2 separate regions of the Homo sapiens genome follow, and region 1 is linked to region 2. Evidence: fine-mapped expression QTL. Tissue or cell type: fibroblasts. Region 2 holds a variant in brackets; the other region holds the start of a gene. All regions are shown on one strand. Distances are between the middles of the regions.

Region 1 (8,177 bases), 61 kb before region 2:
GTGGCTCACACCTGTAATTCCAGCACTTTGGGAGGCCGAGGTAGGTGGATCACCTGAGGTCAGGAGTTCGAGACTAGCCTGGCCAAGATGGTGAAACCCCATCTCTACTAAAAGTACAAAAATTAGCTGGGCGTGATGGGCGCCTGCAATCCCAGCTGCTGGGGAGGCTGAAGCAGGAGAATCGCTTCAACTCGGGAGGCGGAGGTTGCAGTGAGTCGAGATCATGCCATTGCACTCCAGCCTGGGCGACAAGAGCGAAACTCCGTCTCAAAAATAAAATAAAATAATAATAATAATAATATAGCTGCCATGGTAGACACTATCCTATGTTCTCTCTCTTAATCCTCAAGACAACCTAAGTAGGTTTTTGTTCCCTTCATTTTATAAATGAGAAAACCACCAAACCATCTCATGGCTTTTTCTGATGCAAACTGATTTCTAGTCTCACAAGGCCCGTGGAGCCCTCCAGGACCTGAAGATGAGTCAGCCGCGTGCCCCTACTCCTGCCCTACACACCTAACAGGGGTGGCAAATGCAGCCCTGAGTTGGGGGGCACTCAGCAGGGCCAGGAGCGGGGCGTGAGCCAGAGCTGTGGGTGCTGCAGGAGAGGCCCCAGCCCTGACCCCCATGGCACAGAGTCTCATCTTCATGCATTCAGTGCCCTGGCCCCCACCTCCTGACTGGGAAACTTCCAGGAGTGGCGGCACAGACCACACGTTTTCAAGCCAAGTCCTCCCTGGCCTTTGTTCTCCCTCCCAACTTTCTTTTAATCAGTCGGAAACGCTGCCCGGCTGCAGCCAGAGGCCAAGAAAGCCTTGGAGAAAACACAATCGTCTTTTCCTAACACCTCCTCCTCTCCACTCCCTCCCACCCAGCTCTCAGTAAAGCCCAACGGGACGGACAGACACAGGACAGACAGGCGGCTCCTCTCGGCCGTTTGGCAAGAAAGATCAGCGCCCTTCTCCATTTAAGCGGCCGTCGCCAAAGGAGTTTCTGCAGATCAGCTAACAGGCTCACCATCTGCGGCCCCACAGCTCTCTGAGAGCAGGGGCGGTGCCACTTGTGGCCTTACATACAGGGCTTCGGGGGCCTCACAGCTGCAGATAGGGGCCAGGCAGTCTTCAAAAGCCCCTTCCCAAACTGTACCAAATTAAACCTGTTGAAACTCAAAGAGACTTCTCCCCAAAAGAAACAAAAGGCCCACAGGACATCCAGCTGCTTTTATCGAAGTGTGCAATTAGGAGGCTTTTTTAAACCCTTCCAATTACAAACTTCTCTGTGGCTCAGCAGTGAGCCACACTGGGCCCGCAAGTCCTGGGGTGTTCATTCAGTCACACACACATAGGGAGAAATTGTTCGCAAACCGCAGACAGAAAAGAACAGTGAGAGGGAACGCAGAGACTCCGGGGCCAGGGAGAGTTTTACCACGCCTTCTCTCAGGCCCTCAGCTTCCTCATCGACACAATCGGGGCCTCTGAGGCTCCTTCCTTTTCTAACAGGAGTCTCGGATGTCCCACCCACCCATCACCCAGGGCCCCTCGGGGTTTTCCCTCCAGCTGGCAGCCACCCGGCCTGCTGCTTGCTGGAATGCCCTCTTCCCGCGCTCCCCTTACATCAAGCTCCATCTCTTCTAAAGAGCCTCCAGGGAGCCCCCAGGGGCTGCGAAGGCTCCTGGTGCCAACACTGAGCTCTGCGCCTCCCCACACCATCTCCAACCCCACGAGGTGCCCAGGCCGTGCCCAGCACCGCCTGAACAATCAGAGCTCCACAGGGCTCTGCTGCAGCCAGCCAGTCAAGAAAGCTCTGTAGAGCTCAGCTCCCAGCCTCCCCTCCCCCTCCAGCCCCCTTCAGCCCCCTTCCTGGAATCCCCCAGTGAGCATTAGTTGGGACAAGCGACCTTTTGACTAACAAAGGCGGTCACCAGAGGTTAAAAGGAACTCAACTAAACCAGGGATTAAGACTCGGATTCTGAGGGTGGTCTAGGGCACTCCCCTGGACCTGGGCCACTGGAGAAACAAAGACGCCAGGAGTGCCGGGCCTGGCTAGTGGCTCTGAGAAGCCACGGGTCAGCAGAGAGGTCACAGGTCATAGCTCTGCCGCCCAGCAGCTGCTCTGATCAGAGGACCTCGTGGCAGTCCCCCCAGGGACCAGGCCTTGAGGGTTAGAGGGGAGAAAAGCGCGGGCTGGGTGGGCACTGTCCCGGAGCTGTCAGTCCCAGAGTTGGGGCCTAAGGTCTGGGCCATCGATCAGATCTGCTCTTGGAAAACTCCATCCCCCTTGCCGTTGGTGGAAGTGACCAGTCCCCAGTCCCCGCTGAGCACCGAGCCCGGCAGAACCACTGCCTTGGGCCCTCTGTCCCGGGAGGGAGGCAGGGAGGAGGTGGCCAGGTCCGCATCCCCTCCATCCTCCCAGCTACGCCCCAAAAACCTCCAGGCTGCTCCCTGGCTTTCTCATTTCTTCCTCTCCAGCCCCTATCCCAGGACCGCTAGTGTCTCCTGGGGAAAAGACTGCTTCCCACCCTCCAGGCTCAAGTTTCACATCCGCAAGCTGGGTACAACAGCTCCTACCTGGGGGTGGAGGCGGGAAGCGGTGAGGAAAGATAGCCGAGGGCGCTTCCAGCGTCAAGTGCAAGGCGCCCTGGGCTCGGTAACCCCCAGCCAGCGTCCCCCAGCCCAGCTAGCGCCCCTGAACCCCCAGGGCCCGGGATGCGGCCCCCGGAGCCGGCTGGATTTGCTAGGACTGGGGTAGGACGGTGTGTTTGAGGGGTGGGGGAATCCGGTTTTGAAACAAGTCCCCAGGCCGGGGAGGAGATGAGGACCGGAGCTGGCCGTGGGGGAGGGGGGCGTCGCCGAGGCCTCGGCGCTGACAGTCCGGGGGCGCCGCGCAGGGCAACGCACGGACTCCGAGTCCCCGTGGTTCCGAAACTCGCAGGGAGCGCGAGGCCGAGGGGGTCGGGACCCTAAGCTGGGGCGGCGGACCCGGGACGCCCCTACCTCCGGCCGCCAGCAGCGCAAGGCCGCCGAGCAGCAGCAGCGGAAGCGGGACCCGGCGCGACGGCGCGGCGCGCTCCATGGGCGGCGGGCGACGGGCGGTGGGCGGCGGCGGACAAAGGCGCGGGCGCGGTCCTGGGGCAGCGGCGCGGGCTCCACGCTCCGGCCGAGCCTCGGCAGCCAACGCTGGGCCAGGGCCGCGCCGTTCAATTATCCCGCCCGGGAGGAGGGCGCGGCGGAGGCGGGGCCGCGGGTCTCCTGGTCCTCCCTCCCCGGCGCCCCCTGCCGGGACCCTCCCTCCCCGGACCCCGGCTGCGAGGGGCGCGCGCCCACGGCTGGGGGCGAGGGCCTGGATCCCAGACTTCCCCGGAGGGGGCACAGAGGGGGCGCCTTCGGGCCGGATGCCCCCAGTCCTATCCCCCAACACTCCGTGAAACCCGATCCCCTCCTCCCCCCACCCCCTCTCGAGGGGAGGGCTCGGGATCAAAGGTTATCCCCGCCCGACTCCGCGCGGAGGAGCGGGGACCCGGGCCTGCAGTCGGAGGCCCGGCTGCTGGGGGGCACTGGGGCAGGCCTTACCGCCAACCCCGCACCCTCGGCCGGGAGGCTGCAGGTCGGTGGCTAACCCCAGGCGTGTCCCGGGATGGGACCCGACTCTGCCCTCAGAGACAGGGACAGTCGGGCCAGGCCAACAAACAACCAAAATCCCAACGTGTGCTGGGCTCACCCGGGACACCAGGGCCGGAGGGAGAGACCCGGGAAGTCACCGAGGCTGCAGGGGAGGCAGCTTTGGCGCTGGGCCTGCGGGAGCCTCTTGTATAGGAATTCATAGCTACCGGGGTTACTGAGGATGAGTTAGGCTTTGGAACCACAAGTAGATTTATTTTCCAAAGAAGAAGAATAAAATGGTGCAGGTGAAGATGCGGAGGAACTGGATGAGACGCATAGGAACGCCACTGGGCAGCTCAAAGCGGTGTTCCTGTGAGTTCACCATGGACCCCTTGAGCCACCGACGCCCCGCCCAGCCTTACACTCAGCAGAAACGCATACAACATGTGCTCCAAAAGACAGAAAGACATGTAGCCGCACATTCATAATTCCTCCAATTGGGAAGCCTAGCGTCATCAAGGCAGATGAATATCGTGGAGTATTCGGGCTTAGGAGCACGACAAACGGAACAGGAGTGAATGATCCGCAACTCACATAACGGGTAAATCTCACAGACGTAAGTCAGAGTAATAGAGTCAGCCACAAAGGAACACTCGCTGCATGATTCCATTTACATAAAAGGCAAGAACAGGCCGGTGGCGGTGGCTCACACCTGTAATCCCAGCACTTTGGGAGGATGAAGTGGGCGGATTGCCTGAGGTCAGGAGTTCGAAACCAGCCTGGCCAACATGGTGAAACCCTGTCTCTACTAAAAATAAAAATAAAAATAAATTAGCCAGGCATGGTGGTGCACACCTGTAGTCCCAGCTACTCGGGAGGCTGAGGCAGGAGAATCGCCTGAACCCGGGAGACGGAGGTTGCAGTGAGCCGAGATCTCACCACTGCACTCCAGCCTGGGCGGCGGAGTGAGACTCCGTCTCAAAAAAAAAAAAAAAAAAAAAAAAAGGCAAGAACAGTTCAGAGGTCAGGAGAGTGGTGATCCTGGAGTGGGAGCGTGCTGGGCTTTCGGGGGCTGGTTAGGTTCAGCTTTCTTACTCTGGGTATTGGTTACAAGGTTGGGCTCAGTTTGTGAGAATTTATTGAGCTGTTCATTTATGGTACGTGCCCTTTTCTGAATACATGTTGTTTCTTTCTGTTTTTTTGAGATGGTGTTTTGCTTTTGTTGCCCAGGCTGGAGTGCAGTGGCGCAATCTCAGCCCACTGCAACCTCCACCTCCCGGGTTCAAGCGATTCTCCTGCCTCAGCCTCCTGAGTAGCTGGGACTACAGGCATGCACCACCACGCCTGGCAAATTTTGTATTTTTAGTAGAGACGGGGTTTCTCCGTGTTGGTCAGGCTGGTCTTGAACTCCCGACATCAGGTGATCCACCCGCCTTGTCCTCCCAAAGTGCTGAGATTACAGGCGTGAGTCACCGTGCCCGGTCACATGTTAAATTTTAAAATGAAAAACAAAAGGACAAGAACTCATCTCCCCACAGGGTGTCTTATAAGTTTGAAGTTTGCAGAGAGCCCAGGAAAGCTTACCAAGGGGACCAGCATGCTCACGCCTCTGAGGTTAAGGAGGCCCCTCAGGAAGAGGTGACATGCGACTGGCCAGTGAAAGGTGAGCAGAGGTGGGAAGGGTTTCCTTGGTGGTGCCAGCTTTCCTGATGTCTCTGCAAAAGTTTGGAGGCACCAGAGATCCTGGTCCGTTTTGACTTTGGATGGGGTGGGGTGCGGAAACAGCACATCAGCAGATGGCCCGAGGGAGGCATTTCTGAGTTGGAACAGGTTGGGAACTCATTACTACTTTGGTATTAACTTAATTCGTTTAAGCCATCGGAGAATGGGGTGCCCTGGAAGGAGTCTAGATGACTAAGGGAAGGTGGTGGAGGGCGAAGGGGGAACCAGGGGACCTGGGGGATTCAGAAAGAAGACGTAGAAACAGGCAGAGGGGTAGAAGGAAACCAGGAGAAGGCAATATCCAAGAAGGAATCAAAAAGTGATTCTGGGCAGGGCGTGGTGGCTCATGCCTGTAATCCCAACACTATGGGAGGCCGAGGTGGGTGGATCACTTGAGGTCAGGGGTTCGAGACCAACCTGGCCAATATGATGAAACCCCATCTCCACTAAAAATACAAAAATTAGCTGGGCATCGTGGTGCATGCCTGTAGTCCCAGCTACTTGGGAGACTGAGGCAGGAGAGTTGCTTGAACCCTGAAGGCGGAGGTTGCAGTGAGCCAAGATTGTACCACTGCACTCCAGCCTGGGTGATAGCAAAAAAAAAGTGATTCTGGCTGGGACTGCCCAGTGTGGCCCAGTGCTCAGTGAAGCCAGGACTGAGAAGTCCCAATGGGGATGGAGCAGGTGGCCGCTGGCGATGTGACCGGGGCCCTTTCTGGGGATGGGGAGGGAGTGGCTGTGTTGTGGGTGGCTGAGAAGGGGGTGGGGATGAGGAAACAGGGACAGTAGGAGGAGGTGACTCCTACATTCAGCTAGGCACTGACACTGCCCTAGGCAGGCAGAGGGACTGCTGGGAGGAGGAGGGCTGAGCCAAGCCTGCAACAGCTGGGGAGGGAGGCCAGAGCCAGGAGAGAGGACATGGAAACCTGGCCTCTCCCAGCCTTTCCTGAAGCTTCAAGAGCTTACTCCTGTTCTGAGGCACAGCCCCCACCATTTTTTTTTTTTTTTTTTTTTTTTGAGGCAAGTCTCACACTGTCACCCAGGCTGGAGTGCAATGCCACGATCTTGGCTCACTGCAACCTCTGTCTGCCGGGTTCACGCAATTGTCCTGCCTCAGGCTCGGGGGTAGCTGGGATTACAGGCACACACCATCAAACCCAGCTAATTTTTTGTATTTTTAGTAGAGACGGGGTTTCACTGTGTTGGTCAAACTGGTCTCGAACTCCTGACCTTGTGATCCGCCTGCCTCAGCCTCCCAAAGTGCTAGGATTACAGGCGTGAGCCGTGGCGCCCAGCCAAGGCGCCCCCTTTTTAGGCACTCACTCTAGTCCTCATCCCAGGCCTGTCCTCCATGGCCTCTCCACATCCTCTTGTCCCTGTGGCTGGTGACTTGGAAAGCCAGGCACTGGGTGTCAGGGAAGTAGGCACCACCATGGACCCCTATCCCCCAGGACAAGCTAGAGGTCCTGACAGCCTGGGACAGGGTCTGAGGCCAGACCACCTGGGTTCCAATCCAAGCTCGCTACTCTCTGGCTCTGTGGCATTGAGCATTTGACTTCTTGGTACCTTGTTTCCTCATCTGTCACGTGGGGCAAGGATTAGGACTTTGCACTTTGCACGGTCGTGAGAATTGAAGGAGATGCTGACTCTCATCACATAAGCCCCACAGAGAAAACTCTGTAATGTAATCACTGTCAGCTGCTGTGCTGGTGGTGACAGTGATGTGCCTTCAGGACCACACAGGGGAGCACCAGTCCTGACCCCCTCCTCATTCACTGTCTGGCTCTGGGCAAGTCCCTTTCTGGGCCTCAGTTTCCCTATCTGCAAAATGCAGGAGATGGACCAGGATGCTTCTAAGCATGCTTCAGACCCCAAAACCCAGGCTGACTCTCGGCCCCCTTCTCTAGTTCTCAGCACATCCAGCTTCCAGAGGCCCACTGGAAGATCATAGGCCTGAGATTCTTGCAGTCCAGGTGAGCCACACCCAGGTGCTGGGAGAAGAACCCATCATGGGCACGGGCATTCCTGCACATTCTTGCTGAGTATGCCACAAATGCAAAGCCCTGGTCACTCTGTACCCGTGTCTCAGGGTCGTGTTTGCAAAAAGCAACCTCAAAGGAGGAGGTACCATCTCCCTCTGGACAAGTTTACCGGAAAATCGGTAAATTCCCCAAACTCAGTGTTCTCCTGTGTAATGCAGCCCATTGTGTGTGCAGGCATCCACCATCCATGATGGGCCCTTGACCTCGCCCACTCCACACCGACCCTAGGACTTGGAAGACACAAGGAACTCATGTGAACACCATGCTTAAACTGCAGCTATTATTTTACTGCAACTAATAAAGTCCCTGTCTCTGACCCAGGAGTCTCAGAACTGGAGATTGGCAGTGCCTCTATTTGAATGGAGGTCATCTGACTCCCTTTGTATCTTGGGTTCTGTTTTTCAATAAAAATTATAGCATTGTAACATTTCCCTGTCTTATTAGAAATCTCCATTACATATCCAGTGAGTGGATATGTTTAGAAGTCGCATACACATTTACTTAACCACTCACTCTCTTATTAGGGGACATTTTCGTCATTTAAACTTTGCAGCGTTAGAAATGATGCTGCCGTGAAACCTGTGCGCTCCAGGTTCAGCTGTACCTCTGCGGCTCCCAGCAGGAATGGCCTAGAAGAGTAAGTGCTGCACCAAGAAACTGACAAATTCACAATCCAGAGAGAGACACAGCAGCTGTGAGTCTCTCCACTTCCAGCCAGCATTGTGTCACCTCGTTGTTTAATCTGAGCTATTTCCACAGGGAAAAGAAACTCTTATCTTCTTTCAAAGTATGTTTTTAATCATCAGAGAGGTTG
Region 2 (8,177 bases):
GGGTTTCACTATGTTGGCCAGGCTGGTCTCGAACTCCTGACCTCAGATGATCCACCCACCTCGGCCTCCCAAAGTGTTGGGATTACAGGCGTGAGCCACCGTGGCTGGCCAGATTTGTTTTATATTTTGAAGTCTTACCAACAGGATTTGCTGATAGATTGAGAGAGAGAGAGCCCAACGATGGATCCAAACTCTCTGGCCTGAGCAATTGGAAGCATTGGGGTTTCCATAGCCTAAGACAGGGAAGACTTTGGAGGGACAGGTGTGGGTAGAGGGAAACCAGTTCTGTTCAGATGCCTTCATGTTGACTGCCTGCTTGTTAGACATCCCAGTAAAGCTATCAAGTCGACATTTGGGTACCAAGCCTGGAACTCACAGCAGAGGTCAAGCTAGAGAAATACACTAGAGTGTTGTCACCTGTCTTCCCCTCCTGGAGCTCTGCTGACTGTCTCCTTGCAGGCATTCTGTCAGAGGTAGCTGGGACTTTAGAACTGGGCACAATTCCTGGCTCCATCTTGAACTGGCTCTGGGACCTTGGGAAAGTGAGTTCCCCTCTCTAGCCCTTAGTTCTTGTGAAAGGAAAATCGCAGGACTCCAAAATCGCAAAGTCAAGGGGAAAAGTCAAGCTGGGAACTGCATCACGCAAACTTGCCTCCCATTTTCTTCCTAGATAAGATAGCTACAAAGATAAACAAGCTGCATACCTCCCTCCCAATTTGCCCACAAGGAAATTCCTTGTGGGCCTCAGGATCTTTACCCTAAAACAGTTCTGTTGAATTTCACCCTGGCAATGTAAATTGATAGCTTATCTTCACAGATGTGGGACAAAGGACAGAACTCACCATCAGGCCTCTGCCCACCTGAGACAAATGCATATATGATTGCTTGATTGCTTCCTCTGCCCTATTGTTTATGTGAAAATGCAGATTCACTGAGCCAGACTAGGGCACACAGGACTACTCCTCTACCCTCTGCTCACATGGAAATTGTGTATTCAGTGAAAGGCTGATCAAAGACTCAAAAGGATGCACCCATTTATCTTTTATATGCCTATGACCTGGAAATCCCTGCTTCCAGTTGTCCTGCGTTTCCAAACTGAAGCAATGTACATCTTACACATATTGATTCATGCCTCATGTCTCCCAAAAATGTGTAAAAGCAAGCTATACCACAACCTCCTTGGGCACATGTCAGCAGGACCTCCTGAGGCTGTGTCACAGACACGTCCTTAACCTTGGCAAAATAAACTTTCTTTCCTTTTTTTTTTTTTTGGGAGACAGAGTTTCGCTCTTGTTGCCCAGGCTGGAGTGCAGTGGCATGATCTTGGCTCACTGCAACCTCTGCCTCCCAGGTTCAAGTGATTCTCCTGCCTCAGCCTCCCAAGTAGCTGGGACTACAGGCACCTGCCACCATGCCCAGCTAATTTTGTCTTTTTAGTAGAGACGAGGTTTCACCATGTTGGCCAGGCTGGTCTTGAACTCGTAACCTCAGGTGATCTGCCTGCCTCAGCCTCCCAAAGTGCTGGGATTACAGGCACGAGCCACCAAGCCCAGGTACAAAATAAACTTTCTAAATGGATTGAGACTTGTCTTAGGTACTTTGTGTTCACATTCCTCATCCTCATTGGGGATATGAAACTGGTAACACTTCTTGTAGCCTCCTGCAGGTTTTTTTTTTTTTTTTTTTTTGAGACGGAGTTTTGCTCTTGTTGCCCAGGCTGGAGTGCAAAGGTGCAATCTCAGCTTACCGCAACCTCCGCCTCCTGGGTTCAAGCAATTCTCCTGCCTCAGCCTCCCGAGTAGCTGGAATTACAGGCATGCTCCACTACACCTGGCTAATTTTGTATTTTTAGTAGAGATGGGGTTTCTCTATGTTGGTCAGGCTGGTCTCGAACTCCTGACCTCAGGTGATCTACCCGCCTCGGCCTCCCAAAAGTGCTGGGATCACAGGCGTGAGCCATCGCACCCGGCAGCCTCCTGCAGATTTTAAGAAGCTCAGCTCTGTGGCATCAGCACACACGGGCTCAGCAAGCAGCAGCCATGTACACCATCAGCATATTTTGCTGGACATGTTTATTGGTGCTGCAAGCCCACCGCCCTTTTTGCCTCTGAATATACTATGAGCCGACTCTCCCCATGCGAGGATGGGGCCAGGGAGTGGGCCTTGACCTAGGGACTGTCCATCTGAAAAGACGACCAGGTCCCATAGGCCCCCTGGTCACGAATTTGAGCTGGGAATGAGGAGGCTGGGCCAGTGGGGCTGGGAGGGGTGGCAGTGCTGGAACTGAAAGGCCGTTTTAGGGCCAGTTACCAGATGGGCAGCTGAGGACACTGAGTGGCTTTGGGTGAGAGACTCTGTGGCTGAGTCCTGTCCTCAGGCTCTGCCAGGTTCCAAGGGATATCCAGGTAACAAAGTCACATTTGTCAGCTCCAGAGCCCCGGGGAAAACCTTCAGGGGCGATTAATTCACAGATCAGCCTGGTGTGGAGGAGATGGCCCTACCCACTTTTTTCTTCAATAGGCTCTGGAATGTTCTATCCCCAACAATTGTGGACAATGAGGCTGGAGTCTTTTCTGACACTGTTAGAACAAGTGTGTTTGGAGAGCTTTCTGGAACGTCTGGTGAAAAGAAAAGACCCACTGACTCGCAGACATTCCATCTGCCCTCATTCCCATTCCTGTTTACTTCTGGGGGCCATGCTGGGGGTTGGCCCCAGGGACTTTGGATTCATCTTTCATTCGCTGGAAGAAGAAAGGAAGGCAGACCTTCCAGACTCAGTAGATGAAACTGACTTTGCCAGGTCTGGGCAGAGAGCAAGTGAGGTTCGAAGATGGGGGAGCATGAATCTGGGGGTGGGCTGGATGAGGTGGTGGGTGGGGGAGGATCAAGGCCTTTACTTGGTCGGGGCAAGCACAGATGAAGCCCCACCTGGCAACTACCTACTCTGTGTCACTCACAGCCTCATTCTCACTCGGCATCCTCCAGCTTCTTTTCACCACTCTCTTAACATCACGTGGGCACAATCCATATGGTTGAAAAGATGCCTCTTGCTGGGCGCGGTGGCTCATGCCTGTAATCCCAGCACTTTGGGAGGCCGAGTCAGGTGGATCACGAGGTCAGGAGATCAAGACCATTGTGGCTAACGCGGTGAAACCCCGTCTCTACTAAAAATACAAAAAATTAGCTGGGTGTGGTGGTATGCGCCTGTAGTCCCAGCTACTTGGGAGGCTGAGGCAGAGGCAGGAGAATCGCTTGAACCCGGGAGGCGGAGGTTGCAGTGAGCCGAGATCGCACCACTGCACTCCAGCCTGGGTGGTGACAGAGCAAGACTCTGTCCCAAAAAAAAAAAAAAAAAAGAAAAGAAAAGAAAAGAAAAGGAAACATGTCTCTTTGGAAAAGGTGCTCTAGAGGCCCCTGCTCCATCCCCAACCTTCACCCCATGATCCCTCCTGTAACCAGGCTCAGGACGCTGCTCCACCCAGGAGCATGGGGACCTGTCACCTCATTGCACCAACATTCCAAAGTGGCTGTCGCTTCTGCAGAGGGAGACCCGGTGCAGGTGGAAACCAGATGGCCAGAGGCTATGCTGGGAGCACGAGAGATAGATGTGCCACCTGCTGGTGGACAGCTCTCCAGTAGACAGCAACAGCTCACTGCACATGAGAGAAGAGAGACAGACTCTCTCATATTGTTTTATCTTGTTTTATACTCAGAAAAGGAAAGAAAAGCGAAACGAAATGCAGGTAGCCCGGCGCCTAGGAACCAGACCCGAAACCAGGCCTGGGCCTGCCTGACCTAATCCTGGTAGTTAAAGATCGACCCTGACCTAACCGGTTATGTTATCTATAGATTCCAGACTTTGTATGGAAAGGCATTGCAAAAATCCC[TG/G]TCCTGTTCTGTTTCCTTCTGATTACCGGTGCATGCAGCCCCCAGTCATGTACCCCCTGCTTGCTCAATCGATCACGACCCTCTCGCGCGGACCCCCTTAGAGTTGTGAGCCCTTAAAAGGGACAGGAATTGCTCACTGGGGGAGCTCGGCTCTTGAGACAGGAGTCTTACCTGATGCTCCCGGCCGAAAGAACCACTTCCTTCTTTAACTCAGTGTCTGAGGAGTTTTGTCTGCGGCTCGTCCTGCTGCATGCATAACAGATGGTACCCGGTTTCTTAGGGGTCCTCCCTTTGCAGTCCTGTCAGGGGTAGGAGTGTGGTTGGGTTTTCTTTTTCTGTCCGTTTCCATCACTCCAAAAAGTAGCCTCATGCCTGTTTGCCATCAAACCCCCTCACCCTGTCCCAGGCAAGCACTGATGGAATAGTTATCCCAATTCTGGAACTCCCCATAGATAGAATTGTAAACTGTGAACTCCTTTGTATCTGTTACAATGTTTCTGATTATGATTTTTTTTTTTGAGACAGAATTTCGCTCTTGTCACCCAGGCTGGAGGGCAGTGGTGCGATCTTGGCTCACTGTAACCTCTGCCTCCCGGGTTCAAGCAATTCTCCTGCCTCAGCCTCCCAAGTAGCTGGTATTACAGGAACACCCCCCACCCCACCCCTCACCACCATGCCCAGCTAATTTTTTATTTTTATTTTTTATTTCATTTATTTATTTTTTTGAGATGGAGTCTTGCTCTGTTGCCCAGGCTGTAGCGCAGTGGCGTAATCTTGGCTCACTGCAACGTCCACCTCCCGGGTTCAAGCAATTCTCATGCCTCAGCCTCCTGAGTAGCTGGGAGTACAGGCACATGCCACCACGCCCGGCTAATTTTTTGTGTTTTTAGTAGCGATGGGGTTTCACCATGTTAGCCAGGTTGGTCTTGATCTCCTGACCTCGTGATCTGCCCCCTTGGCCTCCCAAAGTGCTGGGATTACAGGCCTGAGCCACTGCGCCCCGCCCTGATTATGATTTCTGATTCTGCCGTTTTGACGGGTATATCAGCAGTTTGTTTCTTTTCAGCTGTGAGTGATAGGAATATAACTTTTGTTTATCTGATCACCTGTTGATAGATATTTTGGTTGATCCAAGTTTGGTGCTATCATGAATAAAGATGCTATAAACATTTCTGTAAAGGTCTTTTTGTGATTTTTTGCTTGTTTTTTTGAGACAGAGTCTCACTCTGTACCCGAGGCTGGAATGAAGTGGCATGATCTCAGCTCACTGCAACATCCACCTCCCTGGTTCAAGTGATTCTCATGCCTCTGCCTCCTGAGTAGCTAGGACTACAGGTGTGCACCTCCACACCTGGCTAATTTTTGTATTTTTAGTAGAGTCAGGGTTTCACCATGTTGGCCAGGCTGGTCTCAAACTCCTGACCTCAGGTAATCCACCTGCCTCAGCCTCCCAAAGTTCTGAGATTACAGGCATGAGCCACTGTACCCGGCCTAAAATTTTTTAAATTTTTTGTAGAGACGAGGTCTCGCTATGTTGACCAGGCTGGTCCTGAACTCCTGACCTCGTGATCCACCTGCTTCGGTGTCCCAAAGTGCTGGGATTACAGGCGTGAGCTACCGCACCTGGCCTTATTTTTATGTTATTTATTTATTTTTATTTTTTATTTTTTGAGATGGAGTCTCACTCTGTTGCCCAGGCTGGAGTGCAGTGGCATGATTTCGGCTCACTGCAATCTCCACCTCCCAGGTTCATGCCATTCTCCTGCCTTAGCCCCCTGAGTAGCTGGGACAATAGGCACCCGACACCATGCCCGGCTAATTTTTTTGTATTTGTAGTAGAGATGGGGTTTCACCGTGTTAGCCAGGATGGTCTCAATCTCCTGACCTCGTGATCTGCCCACCTTGGCCTCCCAAAGTGCTGGGATTACAGGCGCGAGCCACAGCACCTGGCCTTATTTTTATTTTTGTAGACAGAGTCTTGCTGTGTTGCCCAGGTTGGAGTACAGTGGTGTGACCTCAGCTCACTGCAACCTCCGCTTCCCGGGCTCAAGAGATTCTCCTGCCTCAGCCTCCTGAGTAGCTGGGATTACAGGTGCGCACCATCATGCCTGGCTAGTTTGTATTTTTAGTAGAGACAGGGTTTCACCATGTTGGCCAGGCTGGTCTCAAACTCCTGACCTCAGGTCATCTTCCCACTTCGACCTCCCAAAGTGCTGGGATTACAGGCATGAGCCACCGTGCCTGGCCCCCTTCCCATTATTCTAAACATAAGAACTTGAACACAGAATAAAGAACCATGTGCAAATGACTCTATTTTTCTTCCTGTTTATCTTATGGCTTCATTTTAAAATGAATAGGCTATCTTTTAGAACAGTGTTAGGTTTACAAGAAAATTGAGTAACAAGTATAGAGGGTTCCCATATGCTCCCTTCCCATAGGCCCCTAGTTCCCCTATTATTAATGTCTCATGTTAGTGTGGTACATTTGTTACAATTGACTAGCCAACATTGACACATCATCATCACCCAGAGTTTATAATTTACATTAGGGGTCACCCTGTGTACATTCTGTGGATTTTGACAAATGTATAATGACATATACCCAAGGTTACAGCATCACACAGCAAAGTTTCACTGCCCTAAAAATCCTTGTGCTCTCTCTGCCTATTCATCCCTCCCTCCCCTCAGTCCCTGGCAACCACTGATGTTTTTACTGTTTCTATAGCTTTGCCTTTTTTGAAAAGTCAGGCTGGGTGCAGTGGCTCATGCCGTAATCCCAACACTTTGGGAGGCCAAGGTGGGTGGATCATCTGAGGTCAGGAGTTCAATACCAGCCTGGCCAACACAGTGAAACCCAACTCTACTAAAAATACAAAAATTAGACGGGCGTGGTGGTGCACGCCTGTAGTCCCAGCTACTTGGGAGGCTGAGGCAGGAGAATCGCTTGAACCTGGGAGGCGGAGGTTTCAGTGAGCCAAGACGGTGCCACTGCGCTCCAGGCTAGGCAACAGAGGGAGACTCCTCAAAAAAAAAAAAAAGTCATATGATTGGACTCATACAGTAGATAACCTTTGCAGATTGACTTCTTTCACCAAGCAATATGCATTTAAGCTTCTTCCACATTTTCTTGTGGCTTGATAGCTCTTTTCTTATTATTATATCTTATATTAATAAGACTCCATTGTCTGGAGGTACCACAGTGTTTTTATCCATTAACTTATTGAAGAACACGTTGCTTGCTTCCCGGTTTTGGCAATTATGAATACAGCTCCTGTAGACACCCATGTGCCAGACACAAGTGTGGACATACGTCATTTGGGCAAATACAAATGGCTTTTGAACGCTATTATTATAATTTTTCTGTGCTGTTTTGTTTTAGATGTGCCTTTTGTAAGTGGCGTATATATAACTAGAATTTTTAAAAGCCAGTCTGTGGAGAGCTAGTGTGTCCAGAACTGGTGGGTTCTTGGACTTCAAGAATGAAGCCGGGAACCCTCGCGGTGAGTGTTACAGCTCTTAAGGTGGCGCGTCTGGAGTTTGTTCCTTCTGATGTTCGGATGTGTTCGGAGTTTCTTCCTTCTGGTGGGTTTGTGGTCTCGCTTGCTCAGGAGTGAAGCTGCAGATCTTCGCGGTGAAGCAGTGTGGACCCAGAGAGTGAGCAGTAGCAAGATTTATTGCAAAGAGCAAAAGAACAAAGCTCCCACAGAGTGGAAGGGAACCCGAGCGGGTTACCACTGCTGGCTTGGGCAGCCTGCTTTTATTCTCTTATCTGGCCCCACCCACATCCTGCTGATTGGTAGAGCCCAGTGGCCTGTTTTGACAGGGCGCTGATTGGTGCGTTTACAATCCCTGAGCTAGATACAAAGGTTCTCCACGTCCCCATCAGACTCAGGAGCCCAGCTGGCTTCATCCAGTGGATTCCGCACCGGGGCTGCAGGTGGAGCTGCCTGCTAGTCCCGCGCCGTGCGCTCGCACTCCTCAGCCCTTGGGCGGTCGATGGGACTGGGCGCCGTGGAGCACGGGGCGGCGCTCGTCGGGGAGGCTTGGGCCGCACAGGAGCTCATGGAGGGGGTGGGAGGCTCAGGCATGGCGGGCTGCAGGTCCCGAGCCCTGCCCCGCGGGAAGGCAGCTAAGGCCCGCTGAGAAATGGAGCGCAGCGCCAGTGGGCCGGCACTGCTGGGGGACCCAGTACACCCTCCGCAGCCACTGGCCCGGGTGCTAAGCTCCTCACTGCGCGGGGCCGGCAGGGCTGGCCGGCTGCTCCGAGTGCGCGGCCCGCCAAGCCCACGC

Direction of the effects. Positions count from the first base shown, and alleles are read on the strand shown. Sizes are in standard deviations (SD) of each study's normalised expression.
For the expression in fibroblasts of the gene that starts at base 3,175 in region 1, allele G in region 2 goes with a lower level than allele TG (small effect, 0.12 SD a copy in GTEx).

Evidence for each region. PIP is the estimated chance that this variant, and not a neighbour inherited with it, causes the effect.
Region 1: FBLN1 starts here. The variant in region 2 is fine-mapped to the expression of FBLN1 in fibroblasts (GTEx, PIP 0.94).

The regions. Positions count from the first base shown.
Region 1 is chr22:45,497,881-45,506,057 of GRCh38, reverse strand. It overlaps FBLN1 (fibulin 1), which reads right to left and starts at 3,175. Exons shown (of 17, transcript NM_006486.3): 1 at 2,994-3,175. The coding sequence starts at 3,072. LOC105373066 (a long non-coding RNA gene) reads left to right here and starts at 5,071. Exons shown (of 3, transcript XR_938305.2): 1 at 5,071-5,262; 2 at 7,229-7,294; 3 at 7,538-7,788. RefSeq lists enhancers at 1-105, 106-719, 720-1,333, 1,334-1,947, 1,948-2,561 and 1 more.
Region 2 is chr22:45,436,793-45,444,969 of GRCh38, reverse strand. No RefSeq gene overlaps it. Among named protein-coding and RNA genes, the nearest start is that of RIBC2, 27 kb to the right of the region's middle. RefSeq lists an enhancer at 2,057-2,619. The variant TG/G (reference allele first, on the strand shown) is at 3,888.